Linked DNA regions of Homo sapiens. The protein of the gene in region 1 interacts with the protein of each later gene in a pairwise test. Each region holds a gene or a part of one and is shown on either strand. Other genes may lie near its edges. The genes, in order: TRIM9, EVL and VASP.

The links.
Region 2: the proteins of TRIM9 (region 1) and EVL interact in binary tests that used the Homo sapiens proteins (3 or more experiments, as listed by UniProt).
Region 3: the proteins of TRIM9 (region 1) and VASP interact in binary tests that used the Homo sapiens proteins (3 or more experiments, as listed by UniProt).

What each region holds. Positions count from the first base shown.
Region 1 is NC_000014.9:50,971,955-50,981,531, reverse strand, and holds the end of TRIM9 (E3 ubiquitin-protein ligase TRIM9), read left to right. Parts: intron 1-1,982; coding exon 1,983-2,145; coding exon of another isoform or gene 2,146-2,241; exon of another isoform or gene 2,242-4,169; intron 4,170-4,178; coding exon 4,179-4,241; 3' UTR 4,242-6,266; downstream 6,267-9,577. UniProt on the Homo sapiens protein: E3 ubiquitin-protein ligase which ubiquitinates itself in cooperation with an E2 enzyme UBE2D2/UBC4 and serves as a targeting signal for proteasomal degradation.
Region 2 is NC_000014.9:100,122,009-100,133,245, reverse strand, and holds part of EVL (ena/VASP-like protein), read right to left. Parts: intron 9,708-11,237; coding exon 9,644-9,707; intron 6,540-9,643; coding exon 6,475-6,539; intron 4,728-6,474; coding exon 4,498-4,727; intron 3,684-4,497; coding exon 3,562-3,683; intron 2,915-3,561; exon of another isoform or gene 2,786-2,914; intron 2,610-2,785; exon of another isoform or gene 528-2,609; coding exon 467-527; intron 200-466; coding exon of another isoform or gene 87-199; intron 1-86. UniProt on the Homo sapiens protein: Ena/VASP proteins are actin-associated proteins involved in a range of processes dependent on cytoskeleton remodeling and cell polarity such as axon guidance and lamellipodial and filopodial dynamics in migrating cells.
Region 3 is NC_000019.10:45,514,977-45,526,213, reverse strand, and holds part of VASP (vasodilator-stimulated phosphoprotein), read right to left. Parts: intron 8,552-11,237; coding exon 8,380-8,551; intron 8,286-8,379; coding exon 8,120-8,285; intron 5,265-8,119; exon of another isoform or gene 4,971-5,264; intron 4,893-4,970; coding exon 4,808-4,892; intron 4,047-4,807; coding exon 3,997-4,046; intron 3,875-3,996; coding exon 3,633-3,874; intron 3,497-3,632; coding exon 3,396-3,496; intron 2,571-3,395; coding exon 2,519-2,570; intron 2,374-2,518; coding exon 2,337-2,373; intron 2,118-2,336; coding exon 2,072-2,117; intron 1,938-2,071; exon of another isoform or gene 1,901-1,937; intron 1,645-1,900; coding exon 1,554-1,644; intron 269-1,553; coding exon 211-268; intron 75-210; coding exon 37-74; 3' UTR 1-36. UniProt on the Homo sapiens protein: Ena/VASP proteins are actin-associated proteins involved in a range of processes dependent on cytoskeleton remodeling and cell polarity such as axon guidance, lamellipodial and filopodial dynamics, platelet activation and cell migration.

The DNA.
Region 1 (9,577 bases):
TATAAGAAAACAATCCAGGATGCTGAAACACCCAGACCTACAACTTAACAGAAAAGCACTTTTGGGCAAGTTACTTCGTTTTTTGAACCTCAGTTTCCAAATCCATCAAATTAGTACAATAAAATTTTTCCTTGTGGGAATCTTCTGAAGATTAAATGAAATATGTGAAAATGCCTTACATTGGAAGCACCTGAAAATAGTAGCCATTCTTCTTATTACGATTCATTAAACTAAAGCTTATGGATGCCAATTTGAATGGCTTTCTACTTATAGAGAACTCTCTTATTACTGTATTAATCCAGAGCAGCCAGTTTGCTAAGGAAAGGAAATACAGTAATCTCCTTGAGGTTTTCTTCTACCACCAAAATATAGATCATTATAATTGAACACATACTATAATGGATTTCCTTTCTCATTTGATTGTGTTCCTCAAATGTATTTTTCACAAATTTCCTAGGCAGAGAAATTTCTACTGTGGACCCTGGTCCACCTTATGCTCCAAGATTTCCCCAGGATACATTCTCATTAGTGTCTCTGAAAAAAAAAAAAAATACAGTAGTGTTCAACCAGATCAAAGGGAAAGCAAGTCAGACATTGGTAGGATAATTGGACCCCACTGTTTTATCTTTTTCTGTATGCTCATCACTGACCCTTCTCCAGCCTGTAGACTCCTAAAGCCTCCTTTTCCCTTGGATAGCTTCTATAGCATTCAAGTGTGTATTATTCGCTGTCACTTGAAGTGAACACACACACCATTTCACCATGAAAGCAAATCCTACTGGATGTAGATAAGTGGTTATCTTCAGTGATCGGCATTTTGTGGAACTCTCTGTCAATAGATTCTCAGTGCTATCACCCAAATGCCACACTTACTTTTTCCCTTTTAGCGTCTTTGTTTTGAAGTGCAGGAGTGAATAATGACATAACCATCACACTATGCAGAGAAACACATTCTTAATGCTGAACACATCTGCTTGCATGCAACCTGCATGTCACTTGTGCTTTCATTGTTAAACCTGTGAAGTAGCAAGAGGCAATTTGTAAACCTGTCTTTTAATGACTATGTACAGTCTGTATCCTGCATGCAAGAGGAAATGAATGACACAAATTCCTGTGCTCTGCTGAGATGAGGACGAAGTTCAATATTGCTAGATCTCAAAAAAATGGGAAAGACAAATCTGATCGTCCATTTTTAATGGCATTTTGTGAAACCATCAATTGAAGCATAAGACACAATTCTTTGTAAAATGGCATTTGTATGCAGGTTCTTTAAAATCACTACATCTCAGAGTATAATTATTTCACTGTACAGAGAAGAAGCCTCTTCTTCAGTGCTGTCATTTCACAGACAGCCTCCAAGTTCTTAATTCAAATGCAACAAGCCAAAAAACTGCTATCCTTCTGGAATGAGTTTTTCTGTTTAATGGATAACATAAGGCCCCAAATCCAATTTCTCATGCATGTGGTTTAGGTGCAACAAAAGTGCTTCTTATTTTGACTTTCAAATTAAGTCACTTTGTATTTAATGATATTTAATTCACACCATTTATACAAAGTGTGCAATATTCCTAGAGTCAGAGCTCTGATAGCCCAAAGGCGACTTTTTCCTAGTCTTTAATGTTTGGTTTTCTACTGCTGTGACTCAGTGGTAGAGACCCTAATGAATGAGTTCACTCTCAGCAACAGCAGAGCAACTCACAAGGGCAGATATCTCCCCCTAGGAAGTGAAAATTGATGGTGGCAGGGAGGGAGCAAAAAATCATACTCTTGTTATGTATAAAACACAGATATACACACAGTACCAACAGGTATACAGTATATCTGCGGTATTAAAATTTATGTGCAAGGGATGATTAGGGAAACGGTTTTGGGGTAGTGATGATTATAAACAGGTTGCAAGACACTGGTTTCACCACACAAAAGGGGGGAGCTTCTAGAGTGACCACAAGGAAATGAACCCCAATTTTTCTCTTTTCCTACAGAACTGAGGGAGGGATCACAAAAGGGGCCACAATTGGGGTCCTCCTCGACTTAAATAGAAAAAACTTGACATTTTTTATCAACGATGAACAACAAGGTCCCATAGCATTTGATAACGTGGAGGGCCTCTTCTTCCCTGCGGTCAGCCTGAACAGGAACGTGCAGGTAAGCACCCTGCCCCTGAGGTTAAACAGCTGTTGCTGGCTACCGGTTCAAAGGCTGCCCAGGGCCGTTCAATCCAACCGAAGAGAGGGAAGCTGACAGCGTAAGGCCCAGACCAAGATATGAAGGAGAGGAGGAGAGAAAGGGATCAGCACTGGCAACTTATTTTATTCCACGCCAAGCATAAGCACCTTCTTTATACTTGGACGCAGACTAGTTAATAGCACATAGGAAACTAGAATTCTCTTCATGGTTGGCTAATGATCATCTCTGTAGCTCTAGTTTCACCTCTAAATAGAAACGAAAGCCTTTAACCAACTGGCATGAAAACAAATAGAATGACTTAACAAAGCTCAGGAGTGCCTGAGAAGAGGTGAGGGTGTAAGACTGAAGCATTAGTATCATTATCAGAAAATCTGAGCATCTTCTCTGCACTCTTGTTTGGCTCTGTTAGGTCCTAAGGGGTAGAAAACATAGTCCCTACCTACAACTTAGTCAATTATTATTTATTATAGAATAAAACAACAGCTTCTCATTTATTCATTCAGCAAATATCTATAGAATGCCTTTAATGTGCCAGGCACAGTTATAAGTGTCTGGGATACATCAGTGAAAAAAAAAAACAAAAAAACAGATAAAAATCTTGCCTTCATAGAACTTACATCTTAGTGATAGGAGACAGACAATAAATAATAAGCATAATTACAATGTTAATCAGATGGTGTGTCAGAAGGTGTTTAGTGCAGTGGAGAAAAGACCAAGGGCCCATGAGTGGTGTGGTTGGGAAGGGCAGCCACAGTATTGCGTAGGTAGGGCTTATCGCAGTTACCGGTGAGCTGAGCCTTAAAGGAGTGAGGGAGTGAGTTGCGTGGAGCCTTCCAGACAGAGGGAACAGCCTGTGCACAGTTTCTAAGGCATGAGGGGCCTTGCATGGGCAAGGAATGGTGGAGAGACTCTTGGGCTGGGGCCTGGAAGGGGGACCAGAGCCATGCATGGGGGAAGAGCTGTGCCCTGCCAGCCGCTGTCAGGACTTAGGGTTTCACTTCCCTCCTGAGCTGGGCATCTCATTAACAACTATGAGCCTCATTCCACAAATGGTTGTCTTGAGATAAGGCTTGAGAATTACAGGTGACTTTTGCCCTATCCAGAACCAGCCTTGGAAACTATTTATCAAAATTCATTGTTGTGTTTCAGTATGTGCAGTAACATTGATTGCAAACTAGCAGCCCCTGCCCTTCTCCCTGCAAGGAGATGGGGTTTTCTAGAAGGCTGGAATCTAATCTTTCAGAGTTCAGCCTCTACACTTTAAGAAAGAAAACCATAAATTACCCTAGAAGCGAGTCTCAGAAAAACCCCATTCAAGGTTTTTCACATTAGCCATTTCCCTTTCAAAGAATATTATACTAGATGCTCTTCAGGGGTTTTCAGGACCTTCTGATTATCTATTGATAAAGACTCTTGGGCTGGAGAAGACAGGGATAAGAACTGCATGAAATGGTTCTAGTTTTATCCATAGCTATCCATTGAGGTTTGGGGATACACGGAAATTGGTAAAATAGTATAATGCCATGTTTTTTCACAACTGGCAATCATCTATGCGACCCCAGAAAGAAATGTTTGCCCTAATTACAATAACTAGTGGACAAGTAATAAGGGAAGTGCTGTCTCTGCGAATCTGTCCTCTATCCATGGATTTGGCAGTGGTCACTGTGGTGTGGCCAGTAGGCTCCTCTATCTGAAAACCAAGGCCTGTGTCTTCAGTTATAAGGAACACAATCTCCCCGGAATCCTTTAAAAGAGGCAGGTGACTAAGAACCATATAATCAAATGTCACCAGGATTTGAGAGCCCACCATGGTGAGCAGCCTGTTACCATAGGCAGGATTCTTCTTGAATTCCGTTTAATGCCTGCTAGCCTAGATGTTTAAAGCGAAGCAAACAGAACACTTTTTGAGTTAGGGACACACCCACGGTACACTGTGTAAAGGGACAGGGGGATGCACGATGCCTCTCAGGACTCACAGTCTCATTCCCCAGGTCACGCTGCACACCGGGCTCCCAGTCCCCGACTTCTACTCCAGCAGAGCATCAATAGCCTAAGGATGTGCCGTGGAGGCGCCAGCTGCCTGTTCTTACCTCCGCCTGCGAGAGCCACAGCAAGGAGCTCAGCCAGCCGTGGTGGGGTGCAGAGTTGGCAGGAGTGGGAGAAGGAGGAGAGAAAAGCTGGTCCTCTGCAGTCTTTACACCCACAGCTCTGCCCTTTTCCCTTTCAACCTCTCCTCCGCTGTCATGCCTGCTTCCGCTTCCATGTCCAACAATTCTAACCAACAAAGGACCTAGACAGCCCACCAAGTCACTTGGTTCCCACTCCCAGATTTTGCTTTTATTTAACTTAATTTTTTATGTAGGTGAGTTATATTTTCTTTCTTTTCTGATCAGGTTATTGGTGACTTACTGGACTGGCACCGCCAGGAGAAAATTCTCCTGCTAACTTTTTTTCTTAAGCTTTCTGTCAAACAATGAGGTTGTAGGGGGAGGTAGGGAAGAATGAGCTGAATTTGTAGCATACAGCTTACCTGCTAGAATGTTCTTACCCTCTTACCTCTCCTGTAGCGTTAGCTCTGCAGAGCTAAGCTTTGGGAGAATGAATCTATCACTGAGAAGTTTTACTACTCATTGAAGCACAAAAATATCCGCTACACAGGTTCACATCAGGGTAGGATCGTTAGGATGGCTCTATAATTAGGATAGGCCAGAACCCTGGCCACTGTATAAAATTGGAAAGTCTCTAAGACACAGGCAAACCAGGGGACTTAATGATTTGGTTCGTTTATTTAATAAAAGCTTTTAATTGAGAACCTACTATTGACCAGGCACTGTTCAAGACACTAGAACATTATGTTCTAGACACTGTGGGGACACAGTGGTGAACAGACAGGCATGGTCTCTGCCCTTCGGAGCTTATATTCCAGTAGGAGAAAAAGCAAAAATAAAATAATTATAAATGGTCATATGTACTAGAAAGGAAATGGGCAAGGGTCAAAGAGACTCATGGGCAAGATCTTTCAGGCTTCCTAGAATGATGCTAAAAATCCACACATTCTGGCCATAGCACCAGAAATGTACCAACTCAATGCCTTTTCAGCTGCACTATTTAATTATGGTACCTGCTGCCACTCATCACAGAGCCCTTCTTGGTAGAAATGATGTCAGCATTCTTATTTGCTGATGCTGCTATGATACCACGCCTTAAAAATTGACAGTTGAAAAAAAAAAGAGTGACCAGAGGGCAAAGGACCCATTCTCAGTAATGGGAGATCTTGAGTTGCAGTCCACAGCATTCACATTCTCAGGATAAACATGCTTGTCTCCATATATACTATCTGTGCCTGTTATGAATGAAAAATCCATCCACTCTGCTGCCATTCACAGCCTAATTTTCTGGAGTAGTCCAAACAATGTTTGGAAAAACATGGGACTGTATGTCATTACTATGACTGATAGCAGAATAATAATGCATCTTACTTCTATATAGAGATAGACTTACATAGGTTACCCTTGAAATTCATTAGTTTGTCATAAAGTTTTAGGAAAGGTAGGACCCGGAAAGAAGTTCTAATTAGTTGTCTAAATATTTTTCAGTGAGCCAAGAAATTCACCATGAAAAAACAAGAATAACAAATAGAAGGGAAGAGATAGGATGGGAAAGCTAACAAATTAAAGTTTTGGCAAAAAGGAATATATGTAAATAGCTAATTATTTACTTTTGTGCTTACTTTATTTAGATTATTTCTATCAGTTACAATCTTTTTCTAGTTAAGTGTACCTAATTTATGGAATGGGTGCTATCCTGTTTATGTGTGTCTTGGTTTTTCTTGGCTACAGAAAAACTGTTGCAGGGCAACACTAGTTTGATATTTGATTTACTCTCCAATGAGACTCAATGGCTGGGCCGTGGTAGACTCATAGTTCCTCTTGTTCTTTATTAAATTCATCCTGCTAATTAGATTTCTAGTGACTTGTAACATGTAGTTTACACTGAATTGCAATTACAGATGCATACAACTACTATACTAGAAAAAATTGTCATTTCTGATGTGCCAATAAATGATTTTTATGAGAGAATAAAATGTCTCTAGAATTTCTTAGTTTTTATCTATTGCGGATGACAATTCACCTTTGTCAGAGCGATGTTTCTTCAGGAAGATCTCATTGGAAAGGCCCCCAGAGCTCTGGAGAGCATGTGTTCTTTCCCCTGTTTCCTTGGGCATGTGGCACTGCCTTTTGGTTTTACTCATATGAAATTTAACCTGATGTGAAATGTCCAGTGGAGATGTCTGGGGTCTGCTTCCAAGTATTGGGGATTTACTTCTGTTTTTTTTTTTTTTTTTTAGACGGAATCTCACTCTGTCACCAGGCTGGAGTGCAGTGGCGCAATGTTGGCCCAGTGCAATCTCCCCTCCTGGGTTCAAGCAATTCTCCTGCCTCAGCCTCCCGGGTAGCTGGGACTACAGGCACACACCACCACGCCCAGCTAATTTTTTTGTATTTTTATTAGAGACGGGGTTTCACCATGTTGGCCAGGATGGTCTTGATCTCTTGACCTTGTGATCCACCCGTCTCGGCCTCCCAAAGTGCTGGGATTACAGGCGTGAGCCTGGCCTACTTTATTTTTAAAAAGCCACACATTTGGCTTGCAATTTTATAGTACTGCAAAACAGAGTGTCACTGACTTTTTCAAACCTAGCTCCTTTAACATTTCTTTGAATGGCAAAACAATAATTACAACATTATTCATCTACCTAACATTGTTGTTAGCCACTAAAAAAACACTTTGTTTCTTGATTAAAGGAAAAACATTACCTACAAATATATGGTCTGAGTTATAACCTCACAGAGTGGAATAGTACACAGTTGGTAGCTGCTGCTGCTCTCCGTTGATTCCAGTTTCTACACATTCCTCTTTCTGTCACGGGATCCTTGGGGTGTCACTTCTCCAGCCAAAAACCTCTGTGGCTGGCAGCGCCTTCTGCCTGAGTACTGCCTGCACCTACTGGGCTCATTCTGCCCACTCGGCCTGGCAGGCTGCACTCGGCTCACACTACCAGCCTGGATCCCACACCTGCTAAGGGTGAGTCAGGTGTGGAGTGGCAAGGGGTGTGTGGGCAAGTGAGCTCTGGGTCTGGCCACTGCACACAGCCAGGCAGGCCAGCTGCTGTGGCAGGGCAGGCAGCTCCAGGCACCAGCAAAGTTGTTGGCTCTGTAAGAGGCTATGGCTGGACCAGATGTACTGCACACAGCTTCCACTACAGGAACATGCATCTGGCTGAAGGGTATGTGGTGGCACCCGGAAGCTTGGAGATACCAGGAACCACAGAGCCCCAAAGAGGGTGTCACAGCCCTGGCTCCAGGAGCCCCTAGGTATGGGCTCCCAGAAGGGCCACAGCTCTTCTCTCCTTCTCATCACCTGCAACATGGTGAGCTGAGGGTGGTGGCTGAGGGTTTCAGCCCTGTTTGTGTTACAGCTCTTTCAGTCCCACCATTCAGCAGGTCCCAAGTTCTTGTCCTGTATCCAGGAAGAGTGAGGTACCTGCACAACTGGAGGGTGAGCAAGGCAGAGAGGAGCTTCATTGAGTGACAGAACAGCTCTCAGGAGACCTGAAGTGGGTAGCTCCCTCCACAGACAGGTCACCTTGATGTCTGTGCAGACCCCAGCAGAGAGGAGACCCAGAGTGGGTAACTCCTTCCTGCAGCTGGTAGTGTCGACGTCTGGCTGAGCACAGGGTTTTCATGGGCTCAGAAGGAAGGAAGTGTGTACTGAATGATCCATAGGCAGGCATGGATGGGCCTGGAAACAGCATCATCAGTTCTCACTCTGGGCCACGGACTCACCCCAGAACTGGCAGCCTGGCCCCCAGGCTTCAGGCCATCCCTGGCTTGAAGGTAGGGGTTTCACCAGGGACCTGCCCTTTTCTGTCCAGGAGCATGACTTCCTCCTGCCACCATCAACATGCCTTCCACAGTACCGAGGATGTTTGTGCTGAGGGGTGCCTGCAGGCCTGCACTGGGCTATCTTCGGCTCCACCTCGGCCTCCCTCCCATGCTCATCAGCACCCAAAGTCCAGAGGGGGCTGAGGTGGCAGAAGGCTGGTGTGACAGTGCTGTCCCAAGCACACACACACCTGGGGGGTTTCCGACAGCGCCCAGGCTTGACCACAACTTTGCTCCACCCTGGAGGGGGCACCAGGAGCAGGGAGAGGCCAAGGAGCGGGAGCAGGTACTTCTGAGCCTACGGGGGGAGGGGAGCTTCCCAGGCCCCCAAGAGCGCAGGGATGCCCAAGTCCAGAGTTATGGCTGGGCTGCCGCAGCTGCGCCTGGGATTTTGGGGCTTTGGCCCTGCCAACTCAGTAGGGAGCAGGGCTCTCGCCTGTTCCCGGCCCCTACTGGCTCCGTTGAGCAGACAGCCCCAGGCTCACCTTGCCCCCTGCAGCCAGAGTCTTTGCAGCAGTGGCTCCAGATGGGCCGCTGGTGCCATCATTTCCACTACCATGTTACTTTTTTCTTCCTCCTCTGTTGGTCCCATCTCTGTTCTGGTTTTCTGCTCTTCTGTTTACTACCTAATGGAACGCATTGCTTATGTTTTACTCTTCTCGTGGTACTGAAGTTAATGGAACTTGTAATTCCTCATATTTCCTTATAGGAGTGAATAAGTGATTTGCAAGAAATCATTTTATTTTCTAGAAATGAGGTCCCTTTATTCCTCCCTCTGCTGTAGGCATTAATCTTTTGCCTATCTATTCAACTCACTGAGAAGAAAGGAGGGCTTGCTATTGAATCCAGATTTCTGATTATGAATCAATGGAACTATAATAAACAAACAAATTCTCTGGTCACACTACCTTATGATTTATGTGAACACACTAAAGACACCTGTATGTATTTCTCAAAATATGTGCTAGCTATTTCCACTAAGGCTGATGTTTAGGGAAGCGTGGATCTGACATAATACATCACATACAACTGAGGCGACCTAAATGTTGTGTTTATCTGAAGAACCAATTTTTTGGATAAACACAGAATTTGGAGCACTGAATATGAGTGAACAACAAAAGCACCTAAATAGATGTACAGAAACCTCAGTCTGGGCCTTTCAGTTTGTTACTTCTTCACCCTACCATGGCTGTGCTAAGAAAAACTACAGAAATAGATGTGTGGTGGCCGGGCATGGTGGCTCACGCCTGTAATCCCAGCACTTTGGGAGGCCGAGGCAGGCGGATCACGAGGTCAGGAGATCGAGACCACGGTGAAACCCCGTCTCTACTAAAAATACAAAAAAAAAAAAAAATTAGCCGGGCATGGTGGCGGGCGCCTGTAGTCCCAGCTACTTGGGAGGCTGAGGCAGGAGAATGGCCTGAACCCAGGAGGCGGAGCTTGCA
Region 2 (11,237 bases), about 49 Mb from region 1:
GGTCCAGGGCTCCTTTGCCACAGCTCACCTGAAGCTCCTGCTGGAAGAGGAGTCTTTAGAAACAGAAATAATTTGAAAATAAAAACCTCTCTGGGCTTCTGGCAGACGTGCCCCTCTGCAGTGTACTCCTGGAGTCCCAGTCCCGCCGAGACCCTGGCTGGTCTGTGCTCCCCGGGGCTCCTGGGAAGGCGAGGTAGCCCTGCGGTGCAGCGGCCAGCGCCTCAGGCTGCAGCTCCAAGGGTGGAGCAGTGTCTGGTAGGGGGTGCTCAGTGAGGGCAGGCCTGCTGCTGGGGCCAGGGTGGCGCAGGGACAAGCACCGCAGAGACCCTCCGCCCCTCCTGTGAATCACCTGATGAAGCGCCCATCCCACGCATGTCCCAAAGGCCTCGCCTGAGACCAGAGAGCCTCCCTGGCGATGCGCTCATCTCAGTGGGGAGCCTGAGGGTGGGGCGGGCTGCTTGCTCACCATTTGGCTTTCATCTTCCTTCTTCTCGGCTGGCTTGTCTGACTGGGAGGCTGCTTTTCTCCTAGGCACAGAGAAGGGGAAGATACAGATCAGCTCCTCACGTTCTCTCACTGTCCCAGAACTCTTCTGCCTCCACCCTGCCAGACTCACCCCGGTCCTCAGATAAACCTGTGTGGGAAAACGATGGCGTGAAGGAGGCGGCTTGTCTAGGCCCCGTCTGGTGAGGAGCCAGGCCCAGGCAAATGTCCAGGCCCTCCGTGTGGTCATGGCCTGGGACACAAAACTGGTCTAGGCAGAGAGGGCGAGATGCCTCTATGTCTGTTTAGCTCTACTGGCAGCAGCTGTAGCATCTGAGGCGTGGAGGGGAGGCGGGCACGCTCTGTCCCCAGGACACTGAAGGCCTGGCCACACGGGACAGAGAGGCATCTCTCTGGGCTGCAGTCTGTCCCACAGGTCGGGACACTGGACACTTTCTTGTGTCACTCTAAGGCCCTTGTGTCTTGGAACTCAGTTAACCCAGCCACGCCCTCCCCAATCTAGAATGCCACTCAGAGCCTGGAAATGCTCAGAAGAGGAGCCCTGGAATAGGTCCACGTGACGCCCTTGAGTCGGTTCGTGCACCTCCCCAGTATGAATCCCCGTTTCATGTACTCTAAAACCTCACCCATATTTTTTGGCCTCAGTGGTATCTGCTGACCTCCCAGGTCTACAGAGGCAGGCAGACCCTCAGTGTTTCCCAGAGATACGCTTCTGTGGCTTTTCAACTTGAGATGAGCTGCCCATCAAGCATGGAGCTGGTCTGAGGTGTGATAATGGGCCGTGGCCAGGCTGTCACCTGTCTGTGATGGGCCTACCTGGCAGCCTCCTCAGCTACAGCAGGGGCCCCCTTCTTTAGCTCCCATCTCAGGACAGGTCTGCCCACCTCGTCCCTCAGCCCAGAAACCAGGGAATCATCCCTGACACCAGCTTCTTATAACTGTCAGCCTGGTCAGTTCTCTAAATCTGGGTACCTGCCTGTCTTTTTTGTCTTCACCTTCAACACCTTCCTGCATGCCCCTATCATCTCTTCCTGGACTGTCAGAGTCTCCTAACTGGCCTAGCCACGATCACTTACACCTCACCAGCTACCCCCCAGCAGCCAGTGTCCCATCTCCTAGAAACAGAACGCTGACCAAGCCACCTGCTCACGGGGAGTGTAGGCGGGATGAGTGTCTGTGAAAGTGCTGCTGAACAGGAGCTTTCTGTCCACGTTCATTTCCCTCCTGCCCTCCACTGTTGGGAGACTCAACTGCATGCCCTCAGAGGCGGGAGACAACCTACATGAAAAGAAACCTGGCAAGGGCACTTTCATCGTCGGCTCCACCCAGTAGCCATCACTGAGGTGGATTTCAGAGAGCACCTGATTGATCCCTGCTGAGCTATGCAAAGCATGTTTGTTCTTGGGAGGGCCTTGACTCTCCCACCGGCATCTGGCATCTCACTGGCTCCTGGCAATACTGGCCTTTTCCTGTTCTCAGACAGAAAGGTGCTTCCCCTCAGCTTGGTCTAGGACTTAGGGAAAGCATTCATATTTTCTTTTCCAAAACTATTTCTATTTCTCTGTGGCCCATCCTCGCCTCTGAGTGCTCTGAGGTGGAACCCGATGCCCTGCACCAGGAGGCTCCCTCTTCCAGCCTGACTTTTGGTCCATTTCCTCCACACCTAGCTCTCCAGGCACAGGGGGCGTCAGCCTTCCCAGCCTTACCTTAACTCTGCCCACTGTCCCTCTTACAGCACGGGACGTCCTCATCGTTCTGCGAGCCCTCCCGGCTCTCTCACCCACGGAGCCATTCGCCTTTGTGTGGCCACTGTAAGCCCCACACACCTGGACTTACTCTCACAGGAAACTGCTCAGAAGCCTGCCTCCTGTCTTGGCGATGTACAAACGCCCAGGCCCAGTAGAGGCTCCGGAGACGCCCGTGCTGCGGATCCACCTTGCTGCTCCCTGACACACGGGGAGCCTCCCCTCCCTGCCATCTGTGATGCAAGCAAAGAGCCCCTTGGCAGGAAACCCAGGCTGTGGCCCTGCCATGAAGCGCCACACCAGCTGCCTGCAGCTGTGGGCCTCTGTCATCTCGCATCATCCTCATGGAGCCACGGGAAGGTAATGAGAGGAACTAGGACTGCAGTGTGAAGACCCTGGGCACACAGAGTTCTCACTTGGGTCAGCCAATTGGAAGGCAGCTGGGAGGGCCAGGAGAAGGCGACAAAGTGGCAGGGGGTGGAGGTGGGGTTACCAAGGGAGCAGGGCCCCCGCTGCAGCTTCCTCTGTTCTGGCAGGTGAGGCCTACTCCCGTGCCCTCTGGTGCCTAAGTGAGCCACGATATTGGTAGTCCAAGGTGAGCACATTCCTGATGCCAAGTCATATTTAAAAATAAAATCCAAGCTTTGCATCCCTTTTGAGAAAGACCTGGACGATCTCCCCATCTGCTCGGGTTTCATTTGGGGAACAGCGGAGAGCCACAATGGCAGGCTGCAGCCACACCCGCTGCAGCGAGCAGACACACATGGCCAGGTCTCAGGCCCAAGAGCCCGGCCGGGATGTAGATGGAACTACTCTCTCTCCGTCGCTCAGGGCAATGCCCTCTGGGCTCCTACCCTTCATAACTCCTTCTCCTGAGTCCTCCATAAAGAACCCTGGAGAATGGGGTGCCTTCACCACACATTCACCAGAGTGTCCTCTGCAAACTCGACCACTGCGGCCACATCTTATTTCTGTTAGGATCTTAAGAGCAAGGACTGTTCTTTTTCCCGCATTTATCTCTGAAATTGTCTCCACATTTATCTCTGCTCAGGACAGGGCTGGTACATGGTAGATGCTTCAGGAAATATTTGCTGAGCTAAAATGAAGGATCTGGAGTTTAGAGGACTCCTGTGGGCTTGCGCTTCAGACTAACCCCTTGGGAAGGGAAAACTTAAGTAACAGTTTCCCCTGCTTGGCTAAACCCAGGGAACAAAGATTCTGGGGTCAAGAGAGGATTCTCTGTGCAGCGCTGGGGGCGGGGGCAGGAGCTTCCTGCTAGGCACACCAAGTCTCGGGAGGTGTAGAGACCCACCTCTTGGCCAGCAGTTTGTTCATTTCCTCCATGAGGCCTCCTCCGCCACCCCCGCTGCTTGCCCGGTTGGCATCGGACTTTGAGGTCCCACTGGGACTGGAGCCTCCAGATGCGTCTTCTGGCTGAGGAAAAAGGAGGCCGCGTTTTAGATTCTGCTGCTGATGGCAGAACAGGAGCAGCAACGATGTGAGGGGATGCAGGGGACTGTGTGCGTGTGAATCCTATGGCAGCAGCACTGCAAGGGGCCTCAGGGGCCATCTGGTCCATTATTCTCCAACCCCACAGGGGAGAAAACCAGAATCGAGAGAGGGACAAGGACCAGCCCAGGTCACACAAGTCGCAGACACTCCCCAGGCCTGCAGACTCATGGTTAGTGTCTTTGCCAAGACCAGCCATGACACATGGAGGGAGGGAGGGAGGGGAGAAGAGACTATCCTGTGGGAAGGAAACACAATGTAAGCCAAAGGTCTGTATTAGAGCTATTCTTACAAGCACAGTTCTAGAACATATGAGCAAGGGTTAGGGAAGAAACAGCCGGGTGGACCTAGTTGCCAGCATACAGCTTCCTACAGTGGAAAGGGCAATGGACATAGATTCAGGAGACCCAGGCTTGAGTCCAAAATCTGCAATTTGTAAACGGTGTGACTTGAGCAAATTACTCGTGCTCTTTGTGCTTCAATTTCCTCATCTCTAAAGGGGGACATAGTTCTTGCCCCACGTGTGAAGGTCAACGTGAGGCTCAAAGGCTAACTTCATAATTTCAAAGTGCTGTCCCATGTGATTTCTCGTTTGAGAACAAGTGGCCAAGGGCCAGCTAGCTTTGGGCAGGGAAGCAGTTTGCTGTGTCTCGCAGATGCGGGAAGGAACACAAGCGCTCTGCAGATGGCACAAGGGTCCCCTCGGTCCCATTCCCACCCCGCACACAGGAGCTCTTACCCGTTGGACTCTTCTCAGCTTGGCCCCAGCTATGGCAGCGGCCAGTCCTGACATGGAGCTCTCGTCGTGGCTGGACCCCTGGGCTCCTCCGGCTGGCAGTGGGGGTGGGGGAGGTGGGGTAGCCCCAGTGGGTGGAGGTGGGACTGGGGGTGGGGGGGGCGGTGGAGGCCCACTACATGAGACGGGGGCGCTGGCTGCAGATGAAGGATGTCCTGGTGGGAGGATGGGCCCTGAAACACAACAGTGAGGCTCAGCCAGCTCCAGCACCCAGCTGGGGGCCAAGCCTGCTGCTCTCAGCTCAGGTTCCCCGGAGGAAGGACAGGGGCAGGCTGCTCCCCAAAGGGATGAGAAACAGCTCCAGGCCTGCTTCATCCAGGAAGCCTCCGCGGGATGAACTTGGCTCTGGCACAATTATTCCCTATTCTGGTGTCCTCAGTACTCCGGGGCCTGGCTGGACCCACAGGTGTCCTCTATTTGCTTAACATTCCTTGAGCCCAGGCAATTTCCTCTTGCTCCAATCATGTTTTTCCAGGGGGAGAGGAAGCTGTCTGGTTACAGTCTGTGCCTCTTCTCTTCTCTGCTCCTTCTAAGCACCTAGCACCCCCTAGGCAGAAGTTGGTCACCAAGATCCAACTGTGACTGACACTTGGGTCGTTGGGGGCCGTGGCAGGTCCTGTGGGTCCCAGGGCCGACTGGGGGCATGGGTCAGGGCGCAATGCCGAGTGCTGGGCTCCAGCATCATCCATCCAGCCCCTTCCGCCAGTGCTGCCTAAGCCTGTTTTGTGCCAGGCACTGTGCTAGGTGCTGGGTATGGTGCTGAGGAAAACCAGCCACAAGCTCTCTGCTCAGGGTGCTCACAGCCTATGAGGAACAGTCAACGAATCGCAGAGGTAAACGCAGATGGAGGACTGTGGCAAGCTGACAAGTGTTACCAAGGGCAGGCACACGGCGCCATGTTGGCATACAAAGAGGGGCTCCAGCCTGGCCAGAAGTTCATGGAAGACGGACGTCCTCCATGACGTCCTCACGGAAGTGACTGTGGAGCTGGGACACGACCGGAGAGCAGGGGTTCAGTTAGGTGAAGGGGGGAGGCAAGTGTGAGGAAGGAGGAAAAGGATGGGAAGTGCTTGCGAGGCACTAGAGGGAGAGAGGGCAGGCACAGGCTGTTCCAAGAGTGATGGGGAAGGGACGACATGATGACAGTGTCAGACCTGCATCAGAAATGCAGACTGGCCGGGGAGCAGGAGGCCAGCAGCAGCTAGGTGGGGGTGATGGGGTCAGCCAGCATCTCACGAGCAGAGCGTTCCTGTAACCAGTGGGGGCTCGGGTTTCTCATCAGTCAACAGGATAATAGTCACCTGCTCACTTCATAGGGTGTTTGAGAAAATTAAACAAGACAAAGGACATGAAAGCACTTGGTAAATTATCCAGTCCTTTGCCTATCAGTGAACATGACAATTTCTGGAAAACCCTCGTCCTTCTCCTTTAACGTGCTAAGCTCCACCGAACGTCCAAGACAGACGCGTGGCAGCGCCTCCTGTGGGAAGTCTTCCTGACCCAAGGTAGGCCTTCAGCACCTGCACGTCACTTGCCACAGTGTTCACTACGTGACATGACAAGGGTGGGTTCACTGTCTCCTTGAGTGGACAGCGGGCTTCCTGAGGGCAGGAACTGCATCTGCAGTCATAGTTGTGTCCCCAGCCCTTAGCACGGTGCCTGAGACACAGGAGGTGCTTGCTGAATGTCCACTCCGGAGAAGGTTGGCAGGTAGTGGCCAGACCCAGCTGAGCAGACTCCCCAAGCCTCTGCTCTGCTCTCTTGCTACCCTCACCATCTGAAGTGGTGGTTGCACTTTGAGACCTAGGCTCCCCATAGCTGCTCACAGAGCGCCCCGTGTGTCCCTGGGCCTCATCTACGTGGAGGGGCTGCCACCTGGCAGCAGCATGGGAGTCGGCCCTAGGGGAGGAGGGCTCTCACCTGTGGCCGAGGTTCTTCTTTCTAGAGATTCCTGACGCTGCTGCTGGTGCTGCTCCATCACTTGTCTGGAAAGTAATCACAGCAGGGCAGTCTGACTCCTCCACTCTGGAGACCACCACACTCTGTGCCTGTGCTGTACCCGCCGGCCCCGGCTTCAGAGTCAGGTTTCGCCAGCGCTCCACAAGCGCCACTGTGTGCCACGGCTGCCTCCACTTAACAGAGGAGGGGGATGTGACTGGGTCCAGCTCCCGCAAGTGGGAGCACCGGCTGTCTCCTGAGTCTCAGGCACACTGAACACAGAGCTCCTTATGGAAGGCCAGTGTGATTCCACTCCCCAGAGTGACCAAGCTCTTCCCTGGGCTAGATGGGCGCACCTGGCTTTTGGGAGCCTGTGGCCTCAACAGACCCAGCCTCAGGAACGCCTGTTCTTAGTGGACCTGGCCAAGCTTCCTGGGACAGTTCTCAGGTGTGTTTTGGTTGCCAGCAGAAATGGACACAAAGGCCACACTCCTCATTTTCTTTACCACTGAGCGGTCATAGGCCCGCCTTCGTCTAGAGGGCCATTTGGTGCACCGTGGCACACTGCTACGTGCACAGCAGTGGGAACTCACATCCCAGTGCCTTATGGCAGGGTGGCCTCAGGGTGCTCTTAAAGGCAAGCTGAGTGAGGACACTGAGGCCCAGATACATCTCCAGAATCCAGGGATCGAGTTCTGGAGTGGGAGGCACTTTAAGAAATCATCCAGGCCACAGACAGCATCAAGAGCTCAGCTCGTGTGGTGCAAACTGAACATGTGCTGTGGAAACACAGGGCTAAGGATTGTTCTGAAGGCAGCTCTGGGCTTGGTGGGAGTGCCAGAAACATCTATTTCATGGGGTTCTTGTAGGGTGTATGCCTTAACTAAAACATTATGGAATGGCTGGGCGTGGTGGCTCACGCCTGTAATCACAGCACTTTGGGAGGGTGAGGCGGGCGGATGACGAGGCCAGGAGTTTGAGACCAGCCTGACCAACATGGTGAAACCCCATCTCTACTAAAAATACAAAAATGAGCTGGGTGTGGTGGCGCGCGCCTGTAATCCCAGCTACTCAAGGGGCTGAGGCAGAAGAATCTCTTGAACCCAGGAAGTGGAGGTTGCAGTTAGCCAAGATTGCGTCACTACACTCCAGCCCGGGTGACAGAGCAAGACTCCATCTCAAAAAAAAAAAAAAATTACGGAAAAGCCCCTTTTAGCATTAAGGTCTGAAAAGCTCCCAGCAGCATCTACATTAGTGTCTCTGCTCAAACTGCTGAAACCTCCCCAGCAGGAGCCACACACCTAGAACACCATGGTAAAATGAGGATGTGTGAAAAATACTCAAGTCAGGTCTGAACCTATGGTACTGTTTGGATGCTTGGAGTCTCTGCGTCACTGAGTAAGTCTTGCCCCTGCCCACCTCCAGTAAAGTTGCGTGGGACAAGCGAGAGTCTCCCTGCCGTGTGTGTGTGTGTGTGTGTGTGTGTGTGTGTGTGTGTGTATTCCTGCCTTGGGGCAGGTGTGTGTGTGTCTGTGTGTGTGATCCCGTCTTGGGGCAGGTGTGTGTGTGTGTGTGTGTGTGTGTATTCCTGCCTTGGGGCAGGTGTGTGTGTGTGTGTGTGTGTGTGTGTGGTCCCGCCTTGGGGCAGGTGTGTGTGTCTGTGTCTGTGTGTGGTCCCACCGTGGAGCAGGTGTGTGTGTGTGTGTCTATCCACATGTGGTCTCATCTTGGGGCAGGTGTGTGTGTGTGCGCATGTGTGTGGTCTCGTCTTGCAGCAGGTGTGTGTGTCCGTCCGTACGTGGTCTCGTCTGGGGGCAGCTATGTGTGTGGTCCTGCCTTGGGACAAGTGTATGTGCTTGTGTGTGTGTCCCCTGCTGTTCACACCCCGACCGCCAGGCGGTATGCCCATTCCCGGACGGCCAGTGACCCCACACAGCTTGGATTGGGCCCTGGGGTACAGAATTCAGCACTGCGGGTGATGAAGCAGTTTCGAGAGAAATGAAGTACCCATTTAGCCATCCACGCCTGTACGCTTACACCTGGCGTCTGGTGGCTCACTCCTTCACGCCCTTTTGTGGGTGGGACCAGCCTTGGGTCCCGGCAGGGAGCTGCAGCTGGAGTGAGACTTGACTGCCAGTCTAGGTTCTGCCTGACTCTCTGGTTACTCTGGGCAAGTCACTTCCATTCTCGGCTTCAGCTGGCTCATGGGGACAACAGTAAGAAAAGCCCTGAGGGTGAGTGGGTGAGACAGGTGGGGAGCAAAGCCAACACCATCTTCAAACCGGGAAACGGAGGCTTGGAGCAGGAACTTGCCCAAGGTTGCAAGGCATTCATTTCTCAGTCTTAGGAAAAGGCCAGAGGAGAGGAGGTCTTGGGAGAAGTCCGTATGCCATTTGGTGAGAGGGGTAGGTGGGGGCAGAAGCCGGCTTTCCTGACTCCTAGTCCAGGGCTGGACATAAGTGTAGCCACAGAGAGCTGCAGCTTGACTCCCTATCTGACAAAGCTGAGTGAGGAAGGCCCGGGCCAGGCCCTACCTCCCTCGACACAGAAGAGGCAGAGGACCCATCGCTGAGAGGGCAGACCTGGGTTCAAGTCCTGACTCTGCCATTTCAGAGCAATGTGACCTTGGGAGGCTGCTCCATGGGGACTCACCACGACTCTGTAATTTCGGGACAACAGCCTTGGCCCTTCCTCTTCCCCACTGTGGTAACACTTTAGAAGCTCCATGGGGTGAGGGGGTTCATTCCTATGGTCCCTAGCCCCATCCCATGGGCGTGACTGCCCCAACAGGCTGAATCCCTCATGCCTGGACTGCCTCCTGCTACGTTGGGGAAGGGCAAGTGAGGCAACAAGGGAGCAGCACTTGGGCCCTGCTGGGTCACCCTGAGAGCCGTCCCGCTGGAGGTCAGCAGCACTCTCTGTAGAATGCCAGACTCCCACAGTCATTCCTGGTCTTGGTGTCCGGGACCAGCGGCTGCGCATCGGCCCCCTCTTTCTTCCTGGTCTGGCTTGCACCTTGCACCCTCCCGCAGTGTATGCCTCTAGGAGTCCTGGCCTTGGCTGCTGGTGCATCCTCACCCGCTGAAGGCACCCCTGGCCACCCAGCCTGATTGGGAGATGACCAGCCTGGCCCCTGCGGGTGCTGGGTTACCTTCTCTGGATGTCCATCTCATCAGGAGAGGGGCCATTCTGCACCTGACGCTGGCTGGAGGGGCCTGTGGGCAGAGAAGCACAGAAACAGTGTGGTTAGAGGAAGAAAGGCCCCAGCAAACCCAACTGGAGTGCTCTCTATCTCTGCCCACCTTCTGGCTGCAGAAGAGACATCCTTAAGAATCTTTTTAAATGTTGGCCTCACTCACACCTGTGCATCACTCACTCCATCTCCTCTCTCAATCACCCTCTCTCTCTCACGGCTCTTCATTCTGAACCAATAAATGAGACCCAAACTTTCACATGGTTAAAAATTAACCCTTTCAGTTACTGACCCTGCTCGCCTTCTCTCTCAAACTATCTTCTCACTGCTTCGACCTTCTTGCTGGCCACCACCCCCTCAACCCTTTAACATTGAATCTGGCCTCTTTACATCCCACCAGGATGTTCTAATTAAAATCAGCGGGGAACTGGGAATTGCCAAACCTAACAAGTCCACTTGATTCCACTTTCTGAGCAAAGGACTGACACTGACAGCTGGCGGATGTCTTGGTCAGAGTTAAAACCTGGGTGTGTCTGAGCTGAGGCCTATGCTTCTAGACCTGGGGTGACCCCTGCTGTCTACAAAGGGTGTCTGGAGCTGCGGGTGGGAAGGAGCCAGACCCTGCCCTTGCTCCCCTTGTTCTAGACTGGTGTGGAACTTTCTGGCCACACCCTGCCCTGGACCCTGAAGGAGGGACCCCGGCATAGGCGAAGTCTGCTGTGCAGACCTCCTGTTCAGAGGAGGCTGGAGCTGGGGCCTGTGCAGGGCTTCCCATGCTGTGCCACAGTTAAGCTTCTGCCGCCACCTAAGAAAGAGCTGACTGTTCCTTCTCTGCCAGCTCAGGTGTCACTAGGGAACTGCAGAGAGTCGCAGTGACTGGGAGAGGGACTCTGGGCAGGCTGCTCTCATACCTCCCTGACAAGATGGGGAAGTGGCTTTGTTTCTGCCGCAGGATGGGGTCACAGCAATATTCAAGTTACAACTGCACTGATGATGTGGGGACAGCCCTGTTCCCTCCTACTTCATAGAGGACCAAGGTCTTAGTGGTTCTTCCCTCCTTGTTCTCAAGAAACAGAAGGAATGAATATGTGAACATTATTACCAGAGCAACGTCCAGGCACTTTTTAAAATTTAATGTTAAATTTAACTCTAATTCTCACAGCCCTATAAGAAGGCTCCCATAAGGACTTGTAACAGCTGGGAAGCCAGGCCCAGAAAGGCTAAATGGCTTGCCCAAGGTCTTACATACAGCAAGTGGCAGATGCAAACCAACTGCAAATGCCACGTTCTTTCTTAAACTCAATCAGACAGTGGTGTCAGATTGAGACCAGCTTGAAGAAAGAAGGATGAATGTGGCAGACTCATAAGCTGCCCTTGGATGGTGTGCAAGGTGCTGTGGGCATGTGTCCCCCCGCCCCCTGACTGCCACTCATCCTGGCTGAGGCGGGAGGGATTCCTGGCGTTTCAGCTCCACGTCCGGGACTTGCACCTGAGCTGCTCTGCTGTGAGCTTGGCACAGGCTTTGGGCTCTGGCTTGGACAACTGGACATCT
Region 3 (11,237 bases), on another chromosome or scaffold:
GCGGAAAGGAGAAGCGGGTCTTCTGGGTCCCTGTGGTCAGGGAGAACCCCGCTTCCTCAGCTCCTGGACGAAGGCTGGAAGGAAACAAGGAGCAGAGGTCAGGGGCAGAGTCTCTGCCTCCTCCCTTCCAAAACAGGGCTCTTGCCCAGGGACATGATGCCTCCAAAATAAGTAAATGTTTAAGAACAAAACCAAAGCAAACCACCTCACCTTCAATGATTTCCTCTTTCACTTTCTGCAATTCCTTCTTCACCTCTTCCAGAAGCTCCTAAAATTAATGGGGTAAAACTAATCAGGAGGGGGTACCGGGACTTGCAGGAATGAATCCCCCTTCTTTTATTTTTTGAGAAGGAACCTTGCTCTGTTGCCCAGGCTAGGGTGCAATGGCATGATCACAGCTCATTGCAGCCTCAACTTCCCAGGCTCAGGTAATCCTCCTGCCTTAGCCTCCCAAGTAGCTGGGACCACAGTCACCTGCCGCCACAATCAGGTAACTTTTTCTTTTTCTTTTTTTTTTTGAAACAGAGTCTCCCTGTCACCCAGACTGCAGTGCAGTGGCCCAATCTCGGCTGACTGCAATCTCTGGCTCCCGGGTTCAAGCGATTCTCCTGCCTCAGCCGCCCAAATAACTGGATTACAGGTGCCCCCCACAAGGCCCAGCTAATTTTTGTATTTTTAGTAGAGACAGGGTTTCGCCATGTTGGCCAGGCTGGTCTCGAACTTTTGACTTCACGTGATCCGTCCCCATCAGCCTTCCAAACTGCTGGGATTATGGCTGTGAGCCACCATTCCCAGCCTAATTTTTGTATTTTTAGTAGCGATGGGTTTCACCATGTTGGCCAGGCTGGTCTTGAACCCCTGACCTCAGGTGATCCACCCACCTCGGCCTCCCAAAGTGCTGGGATTACAGGCATGAGCCACCGCACCTGGCCTTCTCAGGTAACTTTTAAAAGTTATTTTTAGAGATGGGGGTCTCCCGATGTTGCCCCAGGCTGGTCTCAAACTCCTGGCCTCAAGCAATGCTCCCACCTCAGCCTCGCAATGTGCTGAAATTACACACATGAGCCACCGTGCCCTGCCAGAGTCCCCTCTTTCTTGTTGATGGAAAAGCCAGGGGTAGTAGGTTTGAGACCTACCCCTACATCGACACCATGACATCGCTGTCAAGGTCGCAGAGTGACTGGAGGATTCTAGGGGAGAATTCTGGATCCTTGGAGCCGGAAAAGTACTGGAGAACATCCAGTACCAAGGTTGGCAAGCGCATTCCAGCCTCCTGCCAACTCCAATTGGTGATGGACAGCTGGGTCAATGTGCGGAAAGAATTCAAGGCACTCATCTGGAATGAGCGCGGTGATAGATTAATAATGTCTGTCACAGGTGCCAGAAAAGGGGGTGTGGAGTCTCGGTCATCCTTGACCCAATCCAGTTTCTCCATTTGTCAGATTGGAAACCTGAGGTTTCTGAGATGTTATCTAGGATCATACGGCATGCCAGTGGCAGGGGCCAGACCTAGATCTCTCTTGCTGTGGTCCCCAACTTCCCCCCCAAGTTACCTGTTTCACCCTCTGTAGGTCCGAGTAATCACTGGAGCTGGGCGTGCAGGGTTGGGTCTCGGAAGTGGTCACCGAAGAAGACGACTTCATCCTGGGGGAGTTGGTGTGGTTTGGGACAGCAATGAGATTAGAGAGAGGACCTGCTTCCCCGCCTCCTATTCCAGGGGTCACATTGAGCTCTGCCTTATAAATTGGGCAAGTCCAAGTATTTTTGGGGCCCCAGTTTTTTTTTTTTTTGGTTTTGGTTTGTTGTGTTTTGTTTTGAGACAGTCACATTCTATTTCTCAGGCTGGAGTGCAGGCATGATGATGGCTCGCTGAGGCCTCAACTTCCTGGGCTCAAGTAATCCTCCCACCTCAGCCTCCTGAGTAGCTGGGACCACAGGTAAGTGCTACCACGCCTGGCTAATTTTTGTAGAGATGGGGTGTCGCCATGTTGCCCAGGCTGGTCTTGACCTCCTGGGCTCAAGCGATCTGCCCGCCTTTACCTCCCCAAGGGCCCCAGGACCGATGGCCTACCTTGGCAAGGTTGTGCTGTTCTTCTCCCAGGGTCTCCGCACAGATTCTGGGGATAGGCAAGAAATCAGAAAGATCAGGGACAAAAGACTGCCCCCCAATCAATCTTACTCCCCCAACCTCATCAGCCCCTGATCAAAGCCCCATCTCAGGAGACTACAATCCCCAGCACCATTCGCCCTGACTCTCCTATAAGGGTGCTTAACATGTGAGAACAGAGTATTCTGGGATTTGTAGTTCCTGTGGCTGGACTGGGCACTCTACTCACCACTCTGGGCCGGGACTCTGGCCTCTGGCTCCTCCTGCTGGTAGGAAATAAAACTGCCATGAGCCAGCCCCTGCCACACCTCTGCCCATTTCCTCTTTCAGGTTCAAACCCCACACATCCCACTATCCCTACCCTCATGGTACGGCCTAAGAGATGTAGGGCAAGAAGAGTCCCTGACTTACATTGGCAGATTCATCCTTGGGGGTTTTCTCCCCAACTTGCGTGGCTTTCCTTCTGCAGGAGAGAAAAGCAAAAACACGTGCTTCCGTCACCCAACCCATCCCCTTCTGAGGGGAGTTCTAGAAATGTAGATCCTAGCGCATAGAATTCTGGAACTCCGAAAACCTAAGGAAACTCTAGTTTTAGAAATTCAAGAGATTGTGCTGGGCGCAGTGGCCTGTAATGCCAACACTTTGAGAGGCTGAAGCAGGTGGATCTCTTGAGGTCAAGAGTTCAAGACCAGCCTGGCCAACATGGTGAAATCCTGTGTCTACTAAAAATACAAAAATTAGCCGGGTGTGGTGACTCATGCCTGTAATCCCGGCTACTTAGGAGGCTGAGGCAGAAGAACTGCCTGAACCCAGGAGGCGGAGGTTGCAGTGGACCGAGATCATACCACTGCACTCCAGCCTGGGTGACAGAGCAAGACTCCATCTCAAAAAAAAAAAAAAAAAAAAAAAAAAAAAATTCAAGAGATTGTGGTTCTAGAATCAGGGTGGAGGAGGTTCTATGATTCTTATATTAGGGAACAGTAAGATTCCGAGGGTGGAGCGGTGCTGTGTTGGAACACTGAGATTGCAGGAACCTGAGTTCCCAGAATTCTGAGGCAGGATCTCCTACGGTTCTAGAATTCTGGGTTTTAGAACATCTACAGGCTACCTAGGTGGTTGCAAGCCTCAGGCATTTCATGACAAACCCCACCATTATATCCCAAACCTGGTTATCAAAGGGGGAACATTCACCAAAAGAAACAAACTAAACAGGAATTGGAGCCCTCCTCTGACTGGGCCCTACTGAACTGGAACTCCAGGTGACTTGGGGGTCCAGGCTCAGGCTCACCTCCGGGCCAGCATGGCGTTCATCTCTTCCATGAGTCCCCCACCTCCGCTTCGACCACTCTCAGCTTTGGGGGCTGTGGGCCCCCCTGAGGCCTCCTCCTGCTGGAGAAATTTAAAAGGGGCAGGAGCTTTAGGGGCAGGCCTTTTGGCCTTCCAGCCCAATGACACCGCCGGCAGCCCTGGCCTCATCCCCCATAAAAGCCCTGTTGCCCCCTGCCCACCTCTCCCGGCCCCTCACCTTGCTGACTTTCCTGAGTTTGGCTCCAGCAATAGCTGCGGCCAGGCCTGGGGCCCCAGCTCCCCCACCACCAGGGCCCTGTGCTGCCGGGAGAGGGGGTGCAGGGGGTGGTCCTCCCCCTGCTCCGTGCGCTGCAGCTGGGACCCCCGAAGGGGGCAAACCTGGGGGTGGGGGGGGACCTGGAGGAGGGGGAGGTCCTGGTGGTGGGGGTGGACCCCCAGCGGGGGGAGCAGGTGGGCCTCCTGAAACAAACACAGAAAAGGGGGCAGCTGAGAGAGAGAAGCCTCATTCTTCACTGTCCAGCTGGCTGGCCACTTCCTCCAGGGAGGCCCCCTCCCAACTCCCGAAGCTATCTGAGCATCACCTGCATTGGAGACCCGGCGCTCTATGTGCTCCGACGGGCCGGGCTGCTGCCTGTGGGGGGAGGCGAGAGAGCTGCCGTCAATCAGGGCCCTAAGGATGGCCAGCGAAGGGGCCAGCGACCTCCGTCCTCTCTCTCAGAGGTCTCCAGGGTGGCTGGCTCCTAATACTCACCCAAGCCTTCCTCCCCTAGGGAACCAAGAAGGGGGCTGGGTGAGAGTAGGGGGAATGGAGGGCAGGGCAGCGACAGGGAGAGATCAGGATGCGAGATCCCAGTCACTAAACTGTCAGGAACACCGAATTACAAAATGCCCAAGATTCTTTCTTTTCTTTTTTTTTTTTTGAGACTCTGTCACCCAGGCTGGAGTGCAGTGGCTCGATCTTGGCTCACTGCAACCTCTGCCTCCCGGGTTCAAGCGATTCTCCTGCCTCGGCCTGCCGAGCTGGGATTACAGGCACGGGCGCCACCATGACCGGCTAATTTTTGTTATCTTCAGTAGAGACGGGATTTCGCCATGTTGGCCAGGCTGGTCTCAAACTCCTGACCTCAGGCGATCTGCCCGCCTCGGCCTCCCAGAGTGCTGGGATTACAGGCGTGAGCCACCACGCCCAGCCACAAGATTCTTTCAACCACCATATTCTGATTTCCAGGAATCTGCAGGGACCAGGAGGTTCTGCAACTCTGAGTGTCAGAAGTTTCTTGAACATTCTGAAAACTGCAAGTTGGCTGGGTTCTGAACTCTAGGAGTCAAGGGTTCCAGAACATATGGAACTCTGGCAGCGGCTAAGGTTCCCCACCCAGGGCCCAGCCCCACCTTTTCTGCTGCTCCACCTCCTCCGGGGAGGGGCCGTTCGGGACCGACCAGGTGGGAAGTGCTGGGGGTGGAGGGGGCCCACCTCCTGAAAGGTGAGAGAGAAAGGGCCATGGATCAGTCCCAGAACTCTGCTCAGCTCTTGGCGCTTCCCTTGCTCTCCCAGGCCTCCCAGGAATCCTGCCCAGAGGCGCTCACTTCCTCCTTCCAGAGGCCCTGAGGCTCCAGGCCCAGGAGGACGCACATTGGGAGGTGAGGCAGCACCAACTTCCCTGGCCTGAGTTGCCCTAAGGTAGGTGCTGTTGTGATGTCCCAGTGACAGGAGAAGCTAAGGCCCGGGGAACAGTCACTTGCCCCAGATTTCTCCAGGGTGGAATGTGCAGGAACAAGACTTGAATTCAGGCTGATTCCAGCAGCCAGGCTCTTAACCACTGTTGGTTTGTTTCGAGACAGAGTCTCACTCTGTCACCCAGGCTGGAGTGCAGCAGTGCAATCACGGCTCACCACAGCCTCCACCTCCCGGGTTCAAGAGATTCTCCTGCCTCAGCCTCCTGAGTAGCTGGGATTACAGGCGCCTGCCACCATGCCTGGCTAATTTTTGTATTTTTAATAGAGATGGGATTTCACCATGTTGGCTAGGCTGGTCTCGAACTCCTGACCTCAAGTGATCCACTTGCCTCAGCCTCCCAAAGTGCTGAGATTACAGGCGTGAGCCACCGCACCTGGCCCCTGGCTAGCTCTTAACCACTGTTACAGCCACTTGGACCTTACCTAAGAACCTGGAAAGGTAAAGAGCTTCTTCCTCACCTACCTCCAGGCCTCTGGCCCTAGCACCTGAATTGAATTGGCTACGAATTAACAATGAATTAGCCCCAATTTACAGATGACTCAACTGAAGCCCACTGTATTTTTCTGTGTGCCCCAGAGGAGCAAGCCCCTTCCGCACTAGCACAGAAGTTGTCCCACGAAGCAAACACCCCTGCATTTGGTGACTTTCAGTTCTACAGCAGTGATTCCAGGCCAGATGCACGGCAGTCACCTAAAACCTCACTACTCAGTCACGTCCGCAGACCAGCAGCCTGGGTATCACCAGGGCACTTGTGAGAATGTGGAGTCTCAGTCCGCCCAGCCCACCTGCACCAGAGCCTGCACTTTAACCAGATCCCCAGGTGATTCATGTGCACGTTAAGGTTTAAGAAATAGCAACTGGGCTGGGCGCGTGACTCGCGCCTGTAATCTCAGCACTCTGGGAGGCCGAGGCGAGTGGATCACCTGAGGTCAGGAGTTCGAGACCAGCCTGGCCAACACTGCGAAACCCCGTCTCTACTAAAACTACAAAAATTAGACAGGCATGTTGGTGCACACCTATAGTTCCATCTACTCAGGAGGCTGAGGCAGAATTGCTTAAACTCAGGAGGCGGAGGTTGCAGTGAACTGAGATCACACCACTGCACTCCAGCCTGAGAGACAGAGTGAGACTCCATATTAAAAAAAAAAAAAAAAAAAAAAAAAAAAGGCCGGGCGCAGTGGCTCACGCCTGTAATCCCAGCACTTTCGGAGGCCGAGGCGGGCGGATCACGAGGTCAGGAGATCGAGACCATCCTGGCTAACACGGTGAAATCCCGTCTCTACTAAAAATACAAAAAATTAGCTGGATGTGGTGGCGGGTGCCTGTAGTCCCAGCTACTCGGGAGGCTGAGGCAGGAGAATGGCATTTACCCGGGAGGCAGAGCTTGCAGCGAGCGGAGATCGCGCCACTGCACTCCAACCTGGGGACAGAGCGAGACTCCGTCTCCAAAAAAAAAAAAAAAAAGCAACTGGGCTGGGTGTAGTGGCTCATGCCTGTAATCCCAGCACTTTAGGAGGCTGAAGTGGGAGGATCACTTGAGCCCAGGAGTTCAAGACCAGCCTGTAGACCATCTCCACAAAAAGTAAAAAAAAAAAAAAAATTTGAAATGATCCAGGTGGCCAGACATGGTGGCTCACACTTATAATCCCAGCACTTTGGGAGGCAGAGGCAGGTGGATCACTTGAGGCCAGGAGTTTGAAACCAGCCTGGCCAATATGGTGAAACCCCTTCTCTACTAAAATACAAGGGCCGGGCATGGTGTCTCATGCCTGTAATCCCAGCACTCTGGGAGGCCTAGGCGGGCGGATCACAAGGTCAGGAGATAGAGACCATCCTGGCTAACACGGTGAAACCTTGTCTCTACTAAAGATACAAAAAATTACCCGGGTGTGGTGGCTCACGCCTATAGTCCCAGCTACTCGGGAGGCTAGGGCAGGAGAATCGCTTGAACCCGGGAGGCGGAGGTTGCAGTGAGGCAATATCGTGCCACTGCACTCCAGCCTGGGCAACAGAGTGAGACTCTGTCTCAAAAAAATAAAAATAAAAACAAAATACAAAAAAATAGCTTGGGCATGGTGGCACATGCCTGTAATCCCAGCTACTCAGGAGGCTGAGGCACGAGAATCACGCGAACCCGGGAGGTGGAGGTTGCAGTGAGCTGAGGTTGCACCACTGCACTCCAGCCTGGGTGACAGAGCAAGACTCTGTCTCAAAAAACAAAACAAAAAAAGAGCCAAGTATGGTGGTGCACACCTGTATTCCCAGCTACTTAGGAGGCTGAGGCAAGAGGATCACTTGAGCCCAGGAGGTGAAGGCTGCAGAGAGCCATGATTGTGCCAGTGCACACCAGCCTGGGCAACAGAGCGAGATCCTGTTTCTGGGGCAGGACCTACCTATGTCTTGATCTGGGAGGTGGTTTCCCGGGAGTGTGCCTGTGTAAAGTTCATGGAGTACTGATCCCTGAGTAATCGTGCATTTTTTTTGTGTTTGTTTTCTTTCTGAGACGGAATCTTGCTCTGTCGCCAGGCTGAAGTGCAGTGGCCTGATCTCGGCTCACTGCAACCTCTATCTCCTGGGTTCAAACACTTCTCGTCCCTCAGCATCCCGAATAGCTGGGATTACAGGCGCGCACCACCACGCCCAGCTAATTTTTGAATTTTAATAGAGACGCAATTTCACCATGTTGGGCACGGTGAAACTCCTGACCTCAGGTAATCCGTGTGCCTCGGCCTCCCAAAGTGCTGAGATTACAGGCATGAGCCACGGCGCCGGGCCAATGGTGCATTTTACACATAGGTGCACACGGTCACACTGGAATGCACAAAATGCTAGTGATAATTTTCCATGATAACAATGAATTCGCTCTATTTTACCGACGAGTAAACCAAGTCCCAGCAGGGTAAAGCGGCAGCCCCAGGCCACACAGCCGCATTCACTGGTCCCCTTTGCCCGCCGCCATTTCTGACCTTCCAACGCCTCTAGGGCACTGGCCATGCCGGCGGCAAACTGGGCCGCATCCTCCTTGCTGCCGAAGTTGAGGCCCCAGACCTGGCGAGCGTCGCGCCACTGATGGAAGTTGGGGGTGGCCTGGTTATACTTGACACCCCGGACGATGGCACAGTTGATGACCACCTGGTGGGAGGGGAAAGGGGGGTGAGGGGCGGCGGGCGCAGGGGTGGGGCGGGTAGGGGTTCAGCCCACAGAGGGGGCCGGCGGGAAGCTGCACCTGCTGGTCGGGCTGCATCTTCCGGCCCACGACGCGAAAGGAATTGGCCGTGGGGTTGTGGTAGATCTGGACGCGGCTGAAGGCCTGGGGACCCGTGCCAGCAGGGAGCCATCGCTTGTTGCCATCATCATAAAGCATCACAGTGGCCCGGCTGGAACAGATGACCGTCTCGCTGCAGGCGGGAGGAAAAGGGAGAGGGGCCGGTCACCTTCTTATCTGGGTCTCTCCTGGGAGATTCCAAGGGACAAAGACAGTGTGTGGAAGGAAGAGAGTGACACAGAGGGAGGCAGGAGCCACGTGGACAGAAGGAGACGGGGGAGACAGATCAGGAGAGAAAATCAGATCAGGAGAGACAGGCAAACACACAAACGAGATGCAAGAGACAGACGCAGAGAGAGGTGGGAAAGGGAGAGTCGGGTTGACAAAGAGGAGAGACAGACTGAAGGCAGACAGACAGATGAACAGATGGGGGAGGGGTGGGGAAAAAGGATGGGCAGACAGGGGACCTGGAGGAAGAGGCAGACACAGAAAGAGATAAAGATGGTCTTGGCGTGGTGTCTCACACCTGTAATCCCAGCACTTTGGAGGTTGAGGCAGGAGGATCACTTGAGCCCAAGCATTTCAGAGCAGCCTGGGCAACATAGTGAGACCCCATCTCTAATAATAATAATTATTATTATTATTTTTATTTTTGTTTTTGAGACAGAGTCTTGCTCTCTGTCACCCAGGTTGGAATGTGGCCTCGACCTCCTGAGCTCAAGCGATCCTCCCACTTCAGCCTCCCAAGTAGCTGGGACTACAAGCATGCACCACCACACCCGACTAATCTTTTTTTTTTTTTTTTTTTTTTTGAGACAGAGTCTTACTCTGTCACCCGGGCTGTCCTCGGCTCACCGCAACCTCTGCCTCCCAGGTTCAAGCCATTCTCCGCCTCAGCCTCCTGAGTAGCTGGAATCACAGGCATGCACCACCAAGCCCAGCTAATTTTTTGTATTTTTAGTAGAGACGAGGTTTCACCATGTTGGCCAGACTGGTCTCGAACTCCTGGGCTCAAGTGATCCATTTGCCTCAGCCCCACAAAGTGCTGGGATTACAGGGGTGAGCCACCACACCCAGTCCACAAAAAAACTTTTTTAATGAAAAATAAAAAACACAACACAACAAAACTAATAAGAAGGAAAAGATAAAGATGGAGAGACAGGCTGAGGGGTGTAAGAGGCCGAGGCCAATGCCAGTGGGGGGATGCGGGTTAGCAGAGCAGAGGGCAGGAGGGAAGACAGAGGGGCCAGAAGGAGGCCAAGAGCCCAGAGCTGCACTAGGGACCAGCCCCTGCCTGACCTCAGTTTCCCTATCTCTACGCACCCCCCTCCACCACTGCCTGCTCAGGAAGAAGCTGAGGCTTGGGAGGGGAAGTGTGAGGCCTGCAGCAGGTTGGGGACCCATCCCAGACCTCTGAGCTCTTCCTCCAAAGGGACTTCCCGCTGCCCACCCCTCGCCTGGCTCCCCAGGGCACTAGCGGCCATTCCCCAGATACTCCCTGCTCTGTGTCTGGCCTATATTGGGTGGGGCTGGGGATGAAGACACAGCAGTGACCCAGACAGCTCCGGCACCACCCTCCTGGGGCTCACAGTCCAGTGTGGGAGACACAGCTGTCCCCAGACGGTACCAACCCAGGTTTAGGACCAAGGAGCCCAGGGTCTGGGGGTACCCTGAAGGAACGCCTGCCCCAGCCTGGAGAGTCAGGCAGGACTTCCTGGAAAAGGCAACGTCTGACTTAGCCTGGGTGGGAGGTGTCAGTAAACTGGTGCAGAGTTCAGGAGCTGATATCCCCAGACCTGGGTTCAAATCCCCACTGAGCCACCTACTTCATGTGACTCAGGCACATGACCTTCCCACTCAAGACCTCTTCTTGCCTGTGAACTGGGAAAATGACAGTCCCCACCTCCAGGGCAGTGGGGGAGGGGCACATGAATCTGGGCACCTAAAGGGCTTGGTACAGCCGGGTGTGGTGGCTCACGCCTGTAATTACAGCATGTTGGGAAGCTGAGGTGAATGGATCGCTTGAGCTCAGGTGTTCGAGACCAGCCTGGGCAACATGGTGAAATCCCGTCTCTACAAAAACGTACAAAGATTAGCTGGGCGTGGTGGTGTGCACCTGTAGTCTGAGCTACTCAGGAGGCTGACGCAGGAGAATCGCTTGAACCCAGGAGGTGGAGGCCGCAGTGAGCTGAGATCACGCCATTGCACTCCAGCCTGGGCGACAGAGTGAAACTCTGTTTCAAAAAAAAGAAAAAAAGCTAAGTGCTTGGTACAGCGTCCAGCACACGCCGAGAGCTCAGTAACTGTCAACATCCCTCTCATGGGCACCACTGGGGCCCGGGACAGCTACAACCCTCGGGACCCTCCCACCAGCCCCTCTGGGAGGTTCAATCCCCTCTCCCCCAGTGAGGAAACTCAGGCCTAGACAGGAACTCAAACAGGAAGTGACTTGCCCAAGGTCACACAGGGGAAGGGGAAGCACTGGTCTCCTCCCCACCCCACCCACACCAGGCTTTTTCCTGAAATGGGGAAGTTGGTGGTCAGAGGTTTCCGGGGACAGAAATTAGACACCCCCCGCAAAGCCTCTGTCTCTAGGAGGGCTGGGGGCTGGGTGTGACACTGATGCTGGGAAGTCAGGGCAGGGAAAGTCCCTAGGCAGACTCAGCTGTGGGTAGGGACCTGGGGTAGGGACCCTCAAATTTACCTAATTGTGCCATCTCCCTCTTACTAGGCATTTCAGGTGGATCAGGGGCCTTAAGCCCCTCCCCCAAAGTCACTCATTTTATTCTCACTGCAGCTTATCCAGAGAGCCACTCATT